Linked DNA regions of Homo sapiens: region 1 is linked to region 2. The links come from fine-mapping of genetic effects on gene expression. Tissue or cell type: whole blood. Region 2 holds a variant in brackets; the other region holds the start of a gene. All regions are shown on one strand. Distances are from middle to middle.

Region 1 (8,107 bases), 190 kb before region 2:
TGAGTGTGGGTGTATTAATATTTGTTTTTGCTTGAGAAATAAGGGAGGTATGAATAGAGGGGGAGAAATAAGGGAGGTATGAATAGAGGGGGTATATCAAAGAGGTTCTTAATCTAAGATGAAGGATTTGAATTGTATTCCATAGTTAATGAAGGATCATTAAGTGTTTTCAAGTGGGAAAGTAACAAAATAAGACTGAGGGGATCAATCCTGTGACAGTGTACAGTATGACTTGAAGGGAGCCCATTCATTCATTTATTCATTCTTTTCATGATCATTTATTGAGTATGCATTATGTTCTAGGAGACAGAGTCTTGCTCTGTCACCAGGCTGTAGTGCAGTGGTGCGATCTTGGCTCACTGCAACCTCCGCCTCCCGGTTCAAACAATTCTCCTGCCTCAGCCTCCCAAGTAGCTGGGACTACAGGAGCGCGCCACCACACCCAGCTAATTTTTTTTTTTTTTTGTATTTTTAGTACAGACGGGGTTTCACCATGTTGGCCAGGATGGTCTCAATCTCTTAACCTCGTGATCTGCCTGCCTCGGCCTCCCAAAGTGCTGTGATTACAGGCGTGAGCCACTGCGCCCAGCCAATGTGTTTCTCAGAGTAGTAGAAATACAAGTGATGAAGAGTAGAATCCTAACACAATCTTAGATATGCAGCGAAGGCAGTTCTATGACTTTGCATTAATTTACTTGAAGTCTCTGAAGCTCAGCTTTATTGTACATAAAATGAGAATAATATACATACAATGACTACTTCAGTAAGGAAAAAATTTATGTAATATGCTTGACTTATATTAGACATTTGTTTATTGTAGTTATACTATTTAAGGGATTTAGAAGAGAGCAAACAATAAGAATGAAACATTTCATCACAGTCGTTCAATAATCAAATTGACAAACAAATGTTTTAACTGACGCCCCCACCCTATGATTACATTTTAATAGAATGAACTATAGATTTTTGCTTTGGCAATTTAGGAATGCACCAAAACAGAGATAACTGTGCTACATATTAGCTGACATAATAATATTCCCTTACATCTGTATAAAGAGCTTGATAGTTAACAAAGTACATTTATTTACACCATTTTGAGTCTTGCAACAATTACACAGATGAGGAAATTGCGATATTTAGTGACTTGTTTGAGGTCACACAGTAACTTACAGAGACCACTTCACATCATATTTATTTGCTTATATTCTATAGCTCTTTTTTACCATACTGTTACCTCTAATCTCATGATGTATGCTAGTAGTATTAACTCAAAAATAGTATAGAATCTCCCACTTTTATGCAGTTTACTTATGAAAAAAGTGAGTACTTTGAAAACTGTGGAAGAAAAGGCAGACAAAAATAGAAATTCTTGTCTTGTAGCAGTCATATTGTTCTGATTATTCCTAGGTTATATTGTTAAATATATAATTTGTCATTTTCTTTACTTTTCCATGCTGCATTTATGATTCTGCTGACATTTTTGGTGTTTCCTTGCCTCATCCATTCACGGTATGTTATTTCTACTTCCACTAAATTTCAATAATTTCCTTCCCCTTTATGATCTGCACCCACATATTTTTTCCTTGTTGTTCTCTCTTGGTAATATACCTAGTTCCTATATCTTTGCCTTCTTTTTTCTTTCCTTCTTCTTCCTTTCTTAATTTGTGTCATTGAGCCAACTTATTTACCGCCTCCTCTACCTTTTCATTTTACATTATCATAGTGATGATTCACTAAAAATTATGGCTAGTTTTAATAAACAATTGTTCTGAGGTCTCATGGGAATCAAAGTTCTTTCTAAGTATGGAAGATGTTTTTTATAAACATGTTTTATGAGCAAGGGATTGGAAGATGAGGTGGGGAAGAGGACATGAGGATCGGAATAGATACTATTATTTATATTTCACAAATTCAATGAAACAACAAACATCATACATTCCTTGTTAGGTGCTATAGCATGTACAAACAAGAACAAGACTAGGTCTTGGGCTCTGTTGCACTTACAATCTAGTGAAAGAGAAAGACAAACATATAAACAACTCTAGTGCAAGACAGACTACTGTTACAGCAAGAGCCTGAAGTTCAGAGGGCACCCAGAGATTGTACCAGAGCGCGTTTAAGTCACACAATTCAATTCAAGCTCAGGCAATTGAGTAGCACTTGGGCATGGAACTCATCTACTATGCTGTCAGACGTTTTTGTTTATTTCTTGTAAGAAAAAGTCTTCAGCCGTCGTAAGACGTTTTATTGGGTAATACGGGAATGCAATGGGGGGAGTCATTTGTTTGCAGAGGTATCATGGGTAGTTTTAAAAAGTGTGAAATCTACGATTGCAGAGGACTGATAGACTCTGGACTTCTGCCAAAATGGGAGGGATAGCAAGCAAGAAGGAGAATCTTTTTTTTAAATTTTTATTTATTTATTTATTTATTATCACAACTCCTGATAACTCACAGTTGGGGGTGAGGACAGGAAAGCAAATCGGGAGTTCAGAATTGTGACAAACCTCAGGTGACTACTACCCCATTGTAGACAAGCTACAGACTGGTATTAGCAGAAGATAGGCCATAAACAAACTCTCCATTTCCTCTCAACGCTTTGGGAACATAATTCTATTATTCCAGCTAGCTAAAAAAAAAAAAAAAAAAAAAAAAAAAAAACCTTTAAAAATATACATTAATACATAGTCAATGCAAACATTTCAAACATTAGATAGGTGTGCAAAATAAAAAGTGGAAGTGCCTCATCACCCACTTCTTACACTCCCCAGCGCTAACATTTGTTGTTATAGGCTTCCAAGCATTTTCTATCCACAAACAAACACAGACACACACACCCCACACATTTTTTTTATTCTTTTCCCAAATAAAATTGGCGGTACACCCACAAATTTTAGGATGAAGACATGTTTAAAAGCATGGGCTTTGGAGCTCACCAGAACTGGGCTCACATCCTCTCCAACTACTGGCTGTGACCCTGGGCAAATTACTTTAAGCTTCAATTTTTTGTGTGAAGTGAAAAGCGGCAATGACTTCGGAAGGTTTGAGGATTAAGGCCTATAGCATATATACATCACCTAGCACAGTCAGATTCACAGTAAGTGTTCAATAAACACTCTTATTGTCTACCGCAAGTGACCTTTCTCATTATAAGATTAAAATCAGGGAATATGTTCCTCTCATAGTTTGATAACTGCCATTAAACAAAAGTTTTTTTTTTCAACTAATTACCGTATAAGTTGGAAAAAAAACTTGCTTTTCCAAAGCGTAAAACAGATTGGTCTAAGTAACACTTAAATGGGGGTTCTCGCATTTTCAGTGCCAATCTCCTACGTCCCCTCAGTACTTTGTTCACGGATGTCTAGAGAATGGACTTTCCAATACAAACTTATGATTTCATGATGTGCCGAAAATTCTCAACCAGGTTAAGTTTCACACTCTGTGTGCAGCATTTGCTTTATCCCGCAATTGCCGGGTGGTGCCCCTTCCAGCTCCCACAGTCGCGCCTCTCCATCCCCTCTGGAGCTAGGACTGCAATGGGAGAAGCCTCTCCCTGTTGGAGCCGTAGGGGACTTGACGGATGCGGGGCGCCTCCGGGGAGCAGCGGCAGGACCGGGAGTTGGGTAGGGTGAGGTGCGCCCGAGGGGGTGCAGGGTGCTGGCCGAAGGGTCCGGCCGGACGGGCGCGAGGGTCCTCTGCTGGCGACCCTGGAACTCGGCTCTCCCCGATCTTCGTCCTGGGGCACCGTCCCTGCCGTCTGCAGCCCCCAGGCCCCACTGCCTCTAACTCAGCGGCCCAGGCCCGTCCCAGTCGCTAGTTTTCTTTTTGGCATTGCCCTTTGCCCTCCCATGCAGTCCTCTGTTGACTCTCTCTTCAGTTCCAGTCACCTCTAGGTCACCCTCCCTCTACCACAGTCACCCATTTTGTCCCCTGTCCCCTTACTCTTCTTCACCTCTCCCCGGGCCGCCTTCTCAGAGGACTCTGCCGACGGAGATGCTGCGGACCCCGCGGCCAGGGGCTGCTCCCCGGACAACCCTGCGTCCACCTTTGCCCCTTCCTCGGGGGCGCGAGAGGCAAGTTTCCGCCCCGTCCTTTTCCCGGTGACAGGACTTGGCGGCGGCCACTGCCGGGGAGGCAGAGGGAGGGACGGCCTGGCTCCCGAGCCCCCTCCCCTGCTCGCGAGCTCGCGCTGTCTGTCTCTCCGCAAGTGCGGAGACGCGGAGGAGGAGGAGGAGGAGGAGGAGGAGGAGGGAGTTGGGGGAGGATCTCCATTGAAATAAACAACCAGGCAGCAGTTATTAACACGGGAACATGGCGGCCGCAGCCTCGGCTACAGCTTCGGCGGCGAAGGTCAGCGCCGACGGCAGCCGGCACCTGACGGCGTGACCGACCCGAGCCGGTAACCGCGCCTTCCCCCGGGGCCGCGAGGGCGGGCGGGGGGCGGGCGGCAGGCGGGGGGCGCCGCGTCCCCACCCCCGGCCGCGACTGCCCTTCCTGCGCCGAGCTCCGACAGAGCCGTGCGCCTCCGAGAGGCTGTTTTTGTGTGCGGGGACCGCCGCCGGAGTGCGCGGAAAACGGGAGTTGCATCCCGGAGGCGCAGCGACGCTGGGGAGTTGGGGCTTGGGGGTGGGGAGGGCGGGAAGCGACGGGGAGACGCGGAGTCCCCGGGAGAGAAAGGAGGCGCTCCAGCGCCTTGCGAGAGCTCAGGAGACGAGTCCCGGAGCGCGAGGCGGGCGGAGGCTGCAGCCCGCGGCGCGGGCGAGAGGTGAGCGCCGAGGCGCGGCCGGGGGTGCGGGCGCGGCCCCCGCCCCGAGGAGCGAGTGCCCATTGCCCAGCCCGGTGCGGGGTCGGCGGAGACCGAGGCTCTAACCCCTCGGGGGCAGCGCGGCAGAGCCGAGAAGGTGAATCCTGGGAAGGTGCATTCTTTAATGGAAGCGCGGAGCGGCTGCAGCGGAGAGTGGGAGCCGGGCGAGGGGAGGCAGGACTCGGGAAGTGCTGGGGGTGTGTGAAGGTGAAGCGGGGTGTCGGGGCGGCCGGCGAGCTGCAGCGCGGGGCGGGGAAGGGGAGCCGCGGCCCGGCGGGTGGCCCGGGCCCGTGTCAGCCCCGGGGGTGGGGGGCGAGGGGCGCCGAGCACCGCGGGCGGACGGGAAGGAGCTGCGGCGGGCGGGGCGGGCGGCGCGCTGGGGCCGAGCAGGCCGGGCCGTGGTGGGGGCGGGGAGCCGGGGGCCGGGCCCCGGCGGCGCCGAGCCGGGCTCGCCCCTGACTGAACTTTCTGGGTGCGGGCGTGTATGCAGGAGGCGCGCTGGGGCCGGGGCCGGGGGCGGGAGGCGGACCGGGAGGTTCCGGGTTGGCTCGCCAGCGCCCCCTTTTCTCGCCCCCTTCTCTCCGCCCCTGAAGGGACAGGCCCTCGGGGCCCCAGGCGGGAAGCGGGAGGGGCCCTGTGGCCGCCTCGCGACGGTCACGCCCCGGGCACGGGGACCCGGCCCTCTCGGGCCCCTGGGGGGTGCTGGGGGAGGGGGCCGGGGTCGTCGCTGCCGGCTGCGCTCCCCGCCTCCTCCCCTCGGGGGAGTCCCAGAGGCGCCTCTTCCGAGACCGGGGGTGGGTCGGTCCCTGGTTAGATGGCCCCTCCCTCTTCCCCTCCCTCTAGTGGTTTCCGGGGCCTGCGGGACCGAGGGGCGGGAATCGGGGACTGGAGCCCCCTTCCGCTGGCCCGGAGCTGGACTGGGCCTCCCGCGTTCTGGGTCCGTCACTGGTAGGGGAAACTTTCCCAAACCAGAGACCGAGCCTGAACACCTTCCTCCGCCACCTCGTCCTCTAATCCCACTCCCTCTCCACCTCCTCCGACGCCTTCCCCTCCCACCGACCCGAATCTCGGTGCGTCTGACTGATGGGGCAGTGAGCCAATCGAAGGCAGGGAGCTGACCTGCCGGGTGTCGGTGAGCCAATCGTGCGGACCGGAGGAAGGAAGGGGGCGGGGTTTCTCCTGACCAGTTAGAGCAGAGTTGCATGCGGGGCGGGGGAGTCATGGAGACGCTGAGAGCCAGCTACTCTTGTCCATCCCCGAGTCACCCGCTCCTTGATTTCTGGGGTTGTGTCACTTATAGGGGCTCCGACCCGCAGAGGCTGCCGAGGCACTCGAGGTCCTGTATGTCTTTCGTACCGAAATAGACGTTGTCTTAGACACGACGAAGTCTAAAGCCACTTTAGGATGTGGCAGTAACTCACCGAGGCCGGTTTCTAAAATGGCATATGCTGTAGTGATCATGTCCTGGACCTCAGCGTCCGGTTTACATGCTAAGGGTCACAGAAGACAGAAGTTACCCGTTTACCTCTTATCTCGGTTTCACTCAGCTATGCCAGAATGGGGACAATGAAATTTGAAAGGGAACCCTGAGAATGAAGGCATGGGAGCAGTATCACGTCAACTGATTATTGGTAGTAGAAAGCATCATTGTTCATAATGGCTTCACTGGTTTCTTGTTTAATTAGAGCTCCAGTTCCCAAAGTGTACTTGAAACTTCGGCATTGGGGATGTCATTAAAAAAAAAAGTTGTGGTTTATGGTATGCATTTTTTTTTCTTTTTGCAAACAAAATGAAGTTGGGAACTAAAGCATCACTGATTGAAACATTAAGTGTGGGTATTTAAGGAGCAAAGCTAATCAAAGAATATTTGTCTACAGGAAAAAGTCTGAGTAAAATGTAGTTTGCCAGATTACTCCCACACAAAAGATTCTTAAAAATAATTTTAATTTTCTTAAACACTGCTGAATTGTACAGTGTGTGGGTACTTTTCTGGTTTATACAAGGTTTGGAGACATCTTTGGTTTTAACTGTTTATTGCGCGTTCAGTCAAGTGACTTTCTCAACTCTTGACTTTTAGGAACAGAGGTCTTTGATTCTCTGTAAAGATCACAGGTTGCTCTGCAGGAATAGCAGTCTTTTAAAAAGAAAGCAGCTGCTACAAAGCATGTGTGTGTGCGCGTGTGTGTGTGTGTATGTGTGTGTGTGTTCCTGTTCTTTGTTGGTGAGGTTAGGCACACTGACAGAAGTAATGCTCCCTTTCTCACCTGGAATTTGTAGAATCTTTGGGAGCTCAAAGAATGAAAAGTGTTAGATTAAGAATGAATTCATTGATTTTTGTCATAAGTATCCCATGAATTTAATTTTGGGAGTGTTTTCTTTTAGGTATCTTATGTGGAAAATGTGTATCTTTTCTATAAGTCAAGCTTTTATTAATCTTGGGTTGCTAAGAAAGAATCGAAGGGGACTGCAGTTCTAGGGAACAGTATTTGCCAAATCTTACAAATGTGTTCTGTTGTAATATAGTGTTTTCAAATTTACCATGAGAATTCCCAATTCAGGATCATTTTGGGTGCATGTAGACAAGAATTAATTGCATTTTGCTGTGGCTCTTGAGATGTTTTTTGTAATAAAATAGTAAAAACAGAGAAGGTAAACCAAACACTTAGACTGACAGAGAGGTAAGGAGTATTAAAAACAACATTCAAAATTTGACAACATTCAAAACCCCCCACCATTTGTTAATTTAGTTACTTATGGGCACTCTGACATATGCCCTTCTCTCTTTTGTATGCTGAAGAGCAACACATTATTTTACTTAATTCTTTGCAACAATCCTTGAAAATGTGGTAAGATTCTTGGTGGCAGAGAGAACCAAGTCTCCTAATGGCTGGCTTGGGGGGAAAAAAACCTCTCAAGCATATGGAGACATCTAGAAAAAGATGTGCATCGTCAGCTGTGATTCCATTGTGTGCTCTCAGACTGGATCTGAGCTTCCTTCCTCCTGGGAATTTCAGTCTTAAACAGAGGAGTTCTTTGACTTTTAGATGTCAGTATACTGAAGCAGGAGGGTAGAAAAGGAGCTCACCAATTACGGATTTATTATGTTTTGAGTAGTTAATATGTTTTGGATTTTAACCCTTCATTGGTTAAATATAATTTAGATGAGTGGCTTAGTGTTAGAAGAGCATTTTATTGGAAATATAAAATGTAAGGCTTGGAGGGGGATTTGGGCTGTGGATAAAGGGGTAATGCTCCTTAGTTGTCTTTATTTATAGTTGTATCTTATTAAAGCTTTCCAAGCTTC
Region 2 (8,098 bases):
TTCCTGCATAGAATATTTATTCAACTGTTGCCAGAAGTTGGGATCTTGCCAAAATAATGTCTGCTTTGGGTAATTTCGACCAATTAACCCTATTTGAAAAGAGGTATTTCCCTTCCTCTAGCAACTGGATGTCTTCTGTATCATCTTACTGACTTCCCAAGTTTGGCCTACTTTCTTTTCTTTCTCAGGCATCTACATCCAAAAAGCACATTTTGTTTATTGAAGCATTAGATACTATGTTTTTTAGACTTATCAGAGCCTGGCCCAGAAATTTTGCTTTTATCCTTATAAAGGGATCGCTCTTGGAACACAGTGTACTTTGAAGGAGAAACTGTTACCAGTTTAGAATGAGCAAATGTTTTCATTTGTGATAAAGCAATAGTGGATGCAGCTTTAGCTGTTGAGGTGGGATTCTGAGAAACAGTGGGCTCTAAAAGATTATCCTTCTGTAGTTTAGTTAAATAGAAATGGAAGGGTATTTAAGTGAGGTTTTATGTATACTTTTAATATTGCTTGAGCATTTCTTGGTTTTAAAAGTTTGTAAAGGGTTAGACTACATATTACACAATTTCATATGTCTATCGTAAAGAGAGCTCAGAAGGAACCTCGGAAATCTCTAAGTCTTTCTGTTCTCATAACAAGAGCTAGATGATTTATCAGGCAGGTCCTCTTCAAGTAGACATTCATAAGAGAAGTGGTTTCAGTAGCTCTTTCTGTGTCGTTTCTAACTTGGGGAATTTCAGAGAAGGCCTAACTTTAAGAACATTTATTGGAGCTAGCAGTCAGGATCAGATGTTCGATCACTTTATTATGTTTGGAGTTCAGCAGCAGTAGTATCCTTATTCTTTAACTGAATTTGTTCTGTATATAATGCATCTGGCAGTTTTACAAGCCTTGTTTGGAAGATAGGCTGTCTTGATAAAAGATAAAATGCATATTATCGTTTACATAAATTATGGATGATTAACAAGCTTTAATGGTATGAGGTTGTATTGAGAGCAACAGCTTTGTTACCTTATAAATTATATTGGTGAATTCCATGAAAGTACATTTTTGAATTGTGTTGAGGTTTAACATTTTATTTTGCTTTCTGTCATTATGCTAAGGATTCAACTGGCTTTGTTCACCCCTCCCAGAATATTGTTACTTTTTAGAGATAAAACTTACTAATCGTAAGGCTATAACTCTTCCCTACCGTCTAGCTCATCCAAGCTGATATCAAGGGATGTAAGGGAGGATGTATGGTCACTGTGAAAACAGGGCTATTGTGTTGTTACAGATAACAAGAATGGATGATTTGAAACTTTTTTTTTCAGACTTGTCCTTTCACAACCCCCAACATCTGGTAGAAACTGGTTTGCTCTCAATGACTGTAATTACCATCAAATACAGCCTGAGAGTTTACTTGTGTCATTTTCAGTTTTTGTGATTTACGTTAAACAGTTTCAGCATTGAGAGTGAGATGCTTAAGAATTTTAATTTCATGTGAGTGTGCAGAAATTATAAGAAACTATTAATTTAGAGCTGGTCACCAAATGAAATTTTAGAACCTTCAGTGCTGCTCTTTAGTATTTTCCATCTCCTACCTTTACACTGGAAATGAATTTTTTAACTTCGATCTACAAAAGTGCATAAAAATTCCTCTGTCCATAGAGTTTATTTTAGATATTTCTCTATGAGTGACTATACACTAGAATGTACATTTGTATAGAAAAAGTAATTTATATAACTTAGAAGAAAGTCGTTTTTATAACTTATCTATCTCTCTCTGGTTTTTATTTGTGTCACTTCTGCATTGCCCAGTATTTTGAGTTGGGGGAAAAATGAACTCACCTGGCCCCACCTCCTGTTCCAGTGTGAAATACTGACACTTGCTGCCAGCCCAGCCTCCTCACATAAGCATTAGAAATATCAGACAGTCCACTAGGTTAGAGCACCTCATTCATGAGGTTCTGTTATTTATTCGGCTCTCCCACTAAAATGCAGGGCATAAATTTATGTGTCTGCTCTAAGACTGCAGCTGTCTGCCCCCCCTCCACCCTCCTCCTGCCCTTCCTGTGTCAGTGTTACATTCGCTCCCCCCACTTTTGGTCTCAGGTCTGTCTCCTTTTTGTTTTTATGGGTGATTTGCAGTGATTCAGACAGGGCATCCTTGCATGTTGGCACTTCCTGGAGGTTACCAGGAGGCAGCCATCCTTCCTTGGCTTGGCCAGGCATCCCCGACTCCACCCCACTTTCCCCTTGGTGGTGGAAAGGTGGGTTGGAGGTGTGTACTGGGGCACATAGCCCAGGAATGTTGCTCTGAGAAGAGGACATGTGCAGTAGACACAAAAATATAAGGAAGCAATTATGTTCATCAAGCCGAAAGTTGCAGATTTTGAGGAAATGTGTTTAAGATACCACTACATAATAAAAGGGAAAACCACTTGGCATTTAAATAACTTACTTCAAGAGGAAATTATGATATTTTCAGTCTACAAATAGAGTGGTTTTTAAGCCAACCTTGAGTAGGTACAAGCAAATTATAAACAGTCTGCTCAAATGATTTTACTATACTTAGACTAGAAAATGGCTCCTCTTCTCTCTCCCTCTGGTCCCTATGTCCCAGTGCTGTCCCTCATATGTTACAATTGTTCGTGTATGTATTTTAGAATATTCACAGGTAAATGATGCAAATAATATATATATAATGTTAAATCATCCTCAAACTGGGTGTATATGACTTTAGGTAAAACAGTTCCTTACTTTAATTGTCTGTTGAAAGCTTTCTGATCTTTCTGATAATACTATACATTTTAGTATATGTGGCATTGCTTTTGAGGGGGGGAATAGCCATTTTAACAAAAAAACTTGTCACCTATACCTACTATATAGGGCATTTTGCTATGCTGTATATTGAAGGCTATATTGTAATGATAGAAACTTTCTTAAGTTTGTATGACTTCTAGAAAGCTGCTTTCAGAGTGAAAATCTCCTAGGTCATTTGTTGAAAGGTTACTTAGACTGGATGTGTAATGTTTTTTCTTACATCTCATGATTGAAACCATGGGAATTGTGATTCAGAGAGAAGTACTGAAAGTGAATGTCTATAAGGTATCATCTGAGAAGGGTTCTGGAATTTAGGGTTTTGTTGTTGTTACAGAGATGGGATCTTGATACGTTGTTCAGGCTGGTCTCCAACTCCTGGTCTCAAGTGAGCCTCGCATAGCTAAAAGTGGTGAAGCTTGGACATGAATACTGGCCCTTCACTTCTCTGCTATCCTGCCTCTCATAGTCTGCCTCTCTCATAGTAAATAAATACAGATTATACTTATTATCAGGCCAAAATTGTGACCACAGTGTGGGACATTGGGACTTGGTTGCATTGCTCTAACCAGCAAGAAGCTTGGGTATCAGCTTTGAGAATTATTCCCTTCTGTGTCACCTCTTGAATCAAATGTGTACCAGTGGTGCAGCCTCCCTAAACGGATACAGTATTTCTTCATTCTGCTTACATATGACTCTTTAAAAAAAAAAAAAAAAAAACTAACTCCACTGCGCTATTGTATCAGAAGTGGCGAGAAGAAATTATTGTAGTACAGCTGAGACTGGGCAGCCCAGATTACAGGGAAGAAGTGGCCTGGCGGTTTGACTGGTACGCGTTATGTTCCTTAGCCCTCCTTGCTCTTTGTCCTTACTCTTGATTGTCCTCTGTCATCTTCCTTAAGTTCTCTGTCTTCTAATGCACTTTACCTTCCCTTTGATTTTTTTTTTTTTCTATCCAGAAAAGAAAAGAAGCCACTACAAAAAGTAAAGGAGGGGCAAAGGTGATTTAGAAGTCTGGGGGCCAGAAGGAAGGGGAAGTAGTATCGAATAGGAGCTCTAGGAAAGACTTTAAATGCAGATTTCAGCTTGTCCTGCTGCATTGTTTTTTCTTTTGGTAAGCAGTTATTGAACACCTTGAGTAGCAGTCTTTTATGGTTTCCTCACAGTCTTTGTAAGTCTCTTTGTTTAGCTCTTTCAGTACGTAAACCTCTGTCACTGGCTTGTTCTTGCTTACCTAAATATTATTTTGATTATGTTAGTGATGACGAGCACACTGATTTTCTTACATTTTTTTTTATTTTCTTACTGAGAGGAATTCAGCAAGCAGGAGCTGATCATGGT[T/C]CTTCCCACTTGGGGGTCAGTAAAGTTCCCCTGACTTCTGGGGCATATCTTAAGACCTTTGGCGTTAGCAGCCAGAACCAGCTGAGGGAAGGAAAGTTTGGAGGCGGCAGGATGTGAGAGAGGAAGTGACCATGCTGTGTGCAGGGAGGCGAGCTGCCACAGAGAGAGGGCACCGATGGAGGAGCAGCCAGGCAGCTGCTGCAGGAGAGCCAGGCACAGGAGCTTCCCGAGGGGCCAGGAAGATCCCCCACTAGGGGGCATTGATTAAGAGGCCTTGTGCAGGAACTCGGGGCTACAGGGGTGTCAGATGTACCTAGTTAAATTTGAAAACCTTCAATTTCGTGTCCTGGCACTGGCTCTTCCCCGGGCTGTCTGTTGTGGGTGAGCTGTTGCAGCATAGACTTCACATTGGCTAACCCAAAACAGAGACTGGGAGGAGCCCCTTACAACACCTGTAGTTTCCACATGGTGCAAGATCACTCTTGAAACTGGAGGCTGGCAGCCCAAACCCAGAGCTGGTAGATTGTAGTTCATGGTGCTGTTGAAATACAACTCGTGTTTAAAGAATTTGGGCCCAATGAGGTAGGCTTGTTTGTTTCTTAAATGTTAACCTTTACATTTGCTTAATCTTAAAAGATTTTTTTAAAGAGACGGCTTTTATATTAGAAATTATACATGCACATAAAACAATGTTAATTACTGGTCTCAAATTTCTGATTGGAGTCAAAATTCTTTTATTGTTGGTAAAATGATCAGACACTTCATCATCAGCTCTCTTCATTTTTTTCTTCCTCTTCTCTGTTTTCTGTTTTAGTTGCTGATATGTGTTCAAGATGAGTGGGATGGGAGAAAATACCTCTGACCCCTCCAGGGCAGAGACAAGAAAGCGCAAGGAATGTCCTGACCAACTTGGACCCAGGTTAGATTCTTGCTGAGAAAAGGAATCAGTATTGTCTGTTAAAGCCACATGAGTGCTTCTTTGTTATTTTAGCATTGATTTTACTGCTGATTCAAATATTGAGTTGGTTTTTCTCCTTAACAGTTAAATCTCTGAATATGTACTTGCTTACATTTTGAATATGCAAATCAGTTACAGATTGTATTCTTTACAAAAAGAGGAAAGCTGTAAACTTCTGATATCTTTTGACTCTTAGAATCAATTTATTTAATAATATTGAGTTTGATTACACAATATTATAACAAGAAGATCCTATAGTAAAAAGGATTTGCCGTTAATTTTATAATGGGTTTTATTTTTGTTGTTTTATTTTTAAAGACATAAAATGTTAAACCCATGTACTTCTGAGTTGAGAACAAAGATTGTGGCTCTTTAGTGAATAAAACAAAGAATTTTAAAGCAAATTTCATCTCATATATTATGGGTGGAAGTATGAGTTGTTATAATGCCCATGTAGGGTAATTTGGCAGTATCAAAATTATAAATGCATATCCTGTTTGAACTAGCCATTCCACTTTTAGGAATTTTCCTATTATATACTTTAACACATGCAAAATGACGTGTATATGAGGTTACTCAAATTGCAAAAGATTCGGAAAAACCTAAATGTCTGTTAAACAGCTGTGGTACATCTAGAACCTGGAACACAGTTCAGCTAGGATAAAGATGAGGATGCTCTTTATGGGTTAATATGAAAAAAAAATCTCTTAAGAATATTGTTACAGACAAAAAGCAAGGTTTAGAAAATGTTTTTGGAATATTGCCATCTGTATAAACAAGGAAGAAAAAAGAATGTGTATTGTTTTAGGATAATCAAGAAACAATAATTGTTGCTACCTGTTTCGGTGGATGAGAACTGGGCAAATAGTTACCAAAAGTAGAAGAGAGACTTTTCACTTTTTCAATGTTTTAAATCATATAAATAATTTTAAGAATTAAATAAAAACAACACCTTCTACCTAATGGACAGTAAAAGCATCAGACATGAAATAGTAGGGAAGAGGGCTAGGAAAAGTCATCAAGAGAGGCAGAGCAGGAGAAAGGGCAAAACACCAGTATTTTATATTCCCTTTTCCCCTTCTAGTTGCCAAGCAAAACATCAAGCCCAATAAATCTCCACTCTCTACATCCCAGCCCCCAGCTCCTCTAGGTTCCCTACTACTTCCTGGTAAACCACAAACTTCTGTCTGTCAGACTGCCTTTAATAGTCAGGAGCCCTACCTGGGGAGGCAGTGGGAGAAAGTGGGAACTGTTTCAGCTGTGGGCTGTAGTGGCAGGTCTCTGAGCCCTCCCTCTGGGGCGCTCAGGGGTCTTTTGAACACAACTCCCCTTTCTCACCTATTTGTCATTTATTTCTTACCTTGTGAGAGGGTGAGAGGGCATGGGTGGAGGGTGGTGGAGGGGGTCAGAATGGGAACTGGGCTATTCTAAGCATTCCAGCCACTCTTTACCTTTTGCTGTAAAAACAGAAGCTACGGGTAAAAATGAGACTTAGAAAAAAAACCAAATTCTGAATTACTGTGCCAGTAATTCGTGGGGTGATCCTGGACAAATTGTATAAACACTATAAAATAGAGACATTGTATTATAGTATGTATTTATGAAAATCAAACATATTTAGAGATGCATATATGAAAGTCTATTGTGAATCCAGAAATTTTAAAATTAGTATTATATACAAATAATTATATATAAAAATACAGAAAGCTGCTACATTAAGCAACTTGCTTTTCTTCCTTATTGTATTGTTTTGAATGTCATTTAATGGGCCCCCCTTTGCACTTGAGAAAATAATTGTATGCTGTTATTATGAAAAGGAACTTTTCAGTTTACTATTTTGTCACATTCTAATGGAAGATTTTGCCTCTTTTGATATTTTTCCATTCCATTAACTTTTTAAACTTTAGTTGAAATTGGACTGTTTGTTTATATTTTGCATGTCATTCAGCTTGGACAGTTAACAAATTTCCTGGGTCAGTTTCGCTTTTGTTTCTAGCTGTATTGTGACTTTTTGCATTACCTAAAAAGGCTGTTTGGTTTGCTTACTAACATTCTGAAGAAGTCTATAAAATTATAAATATCTGGTTTTATTTTTTATGTTTTACCAAAAATTATTGAAATTTATTCCTGTTATTAACTGGGTTAACTTCTCTTCTTTTACTAATCTTAAATAAATTTTAAAATATAACCTCCTTTACCTTTTTGAAACATTCTTTTATTTGTCAACTAATTTGGTGCCCACTTGTTTCAAGTACTGCACTAAGCACAGTGGTGAGCACAGTCCAGGTCACTGTGAAGTGGACAGTCCAGTGGGAGACGCCAAACACATTGAACAGATAGTTTCATTACAAACTAGGCTTAGGTTGATTTTTTTAAAAAAACATGGAACACTTTTGGAAAATTGTGTTTTTCCCCCAAAAGTATTTCTGTGTTTATATAGGTAGCTTTTGTTTGCTATCTTTGTATTAAACTTGTTTAACACGTTCATTTTTTTCACAATAGCTCTTTTTCAAATACATCATAAAAATGTGTTTCTTCTTTTAAGCCCCAAAAGGAACACTGAAAAACGTAATCGTGAACAGGAAAATAAATATATAGAAGAACTTGCAGAGTTGATTTTTGCAAATTTTAATGATATAGACAACTTTAACTTCAAACCTGACAAATGTGCAATCTTAAAAGAAACTGTGAAGCAAATTCGTCAGATCAAAGAACAAGGTAAGAGGACTGAATTAGTATTTTGAAGAGTTGAATTGGTTTCTGTTTTTCCCTGTGTGAGAAGTCCCTTCAGAGTCCCTTTAATCCATTTCTTATGCTTAAATTATTGATGAGGAAATGATGTCACAGTGTAAGATGAATGCAAGTATCACTTGCAGTGGTTTATAAATAGGCTTTGTATAAAATTCAGCCATACCCTAAAGACAGAGAAGACTGAGGTGAGTCAGGGTGATGGAACTTTTCATCTAGTAAACTCAGTTAGGTGCCCACAATTCT

What was found. PIP is the estimated chance that this variant, and not a neighbour inherited with it, causes the effect.
Region 1: NCOA2 starts here. The variant in region 2 is fine-mapped to the expression of NCOA2 in whole blood (TOPMed, PIP 0.98).

What each region holds. Positions count from the first base shown.
Region 1 is chr8:70,399,991-70,408,097 of GRCh38, reverse strand. NCOA2 (nuclear receptor coactivator 2) reads left to right here and starts at 4,290. Exons shown (of 23, transcript NM_006540.4): 1 at 4,290-4,398. RefSeq lists silencers at 3,514-3,673, 4,364-4,673, 4,714-5,003, 5,034-5,693 and an enhancer at 3,774-3,893.
Region 2 is chr8:70,213,627-70,221,724 of GRCh38, reverse strand. NCOA2 (nuclear receptor coactivator 2) reads left to right here. Exons shown (of 23, transcript NM_006540.4): 3 at 4,961-5,065; 4 at 7,650-7,822. The coding sequence starts at 4,980. Among named protein-coding and RNA genes, the nearest start is that of PRDM14, 150 kb to the right of the region's middle. RefSeq lists an enhancer at 2,144-2,193. The variant T/C (reference allele first, on the strand shown) is at 4,147.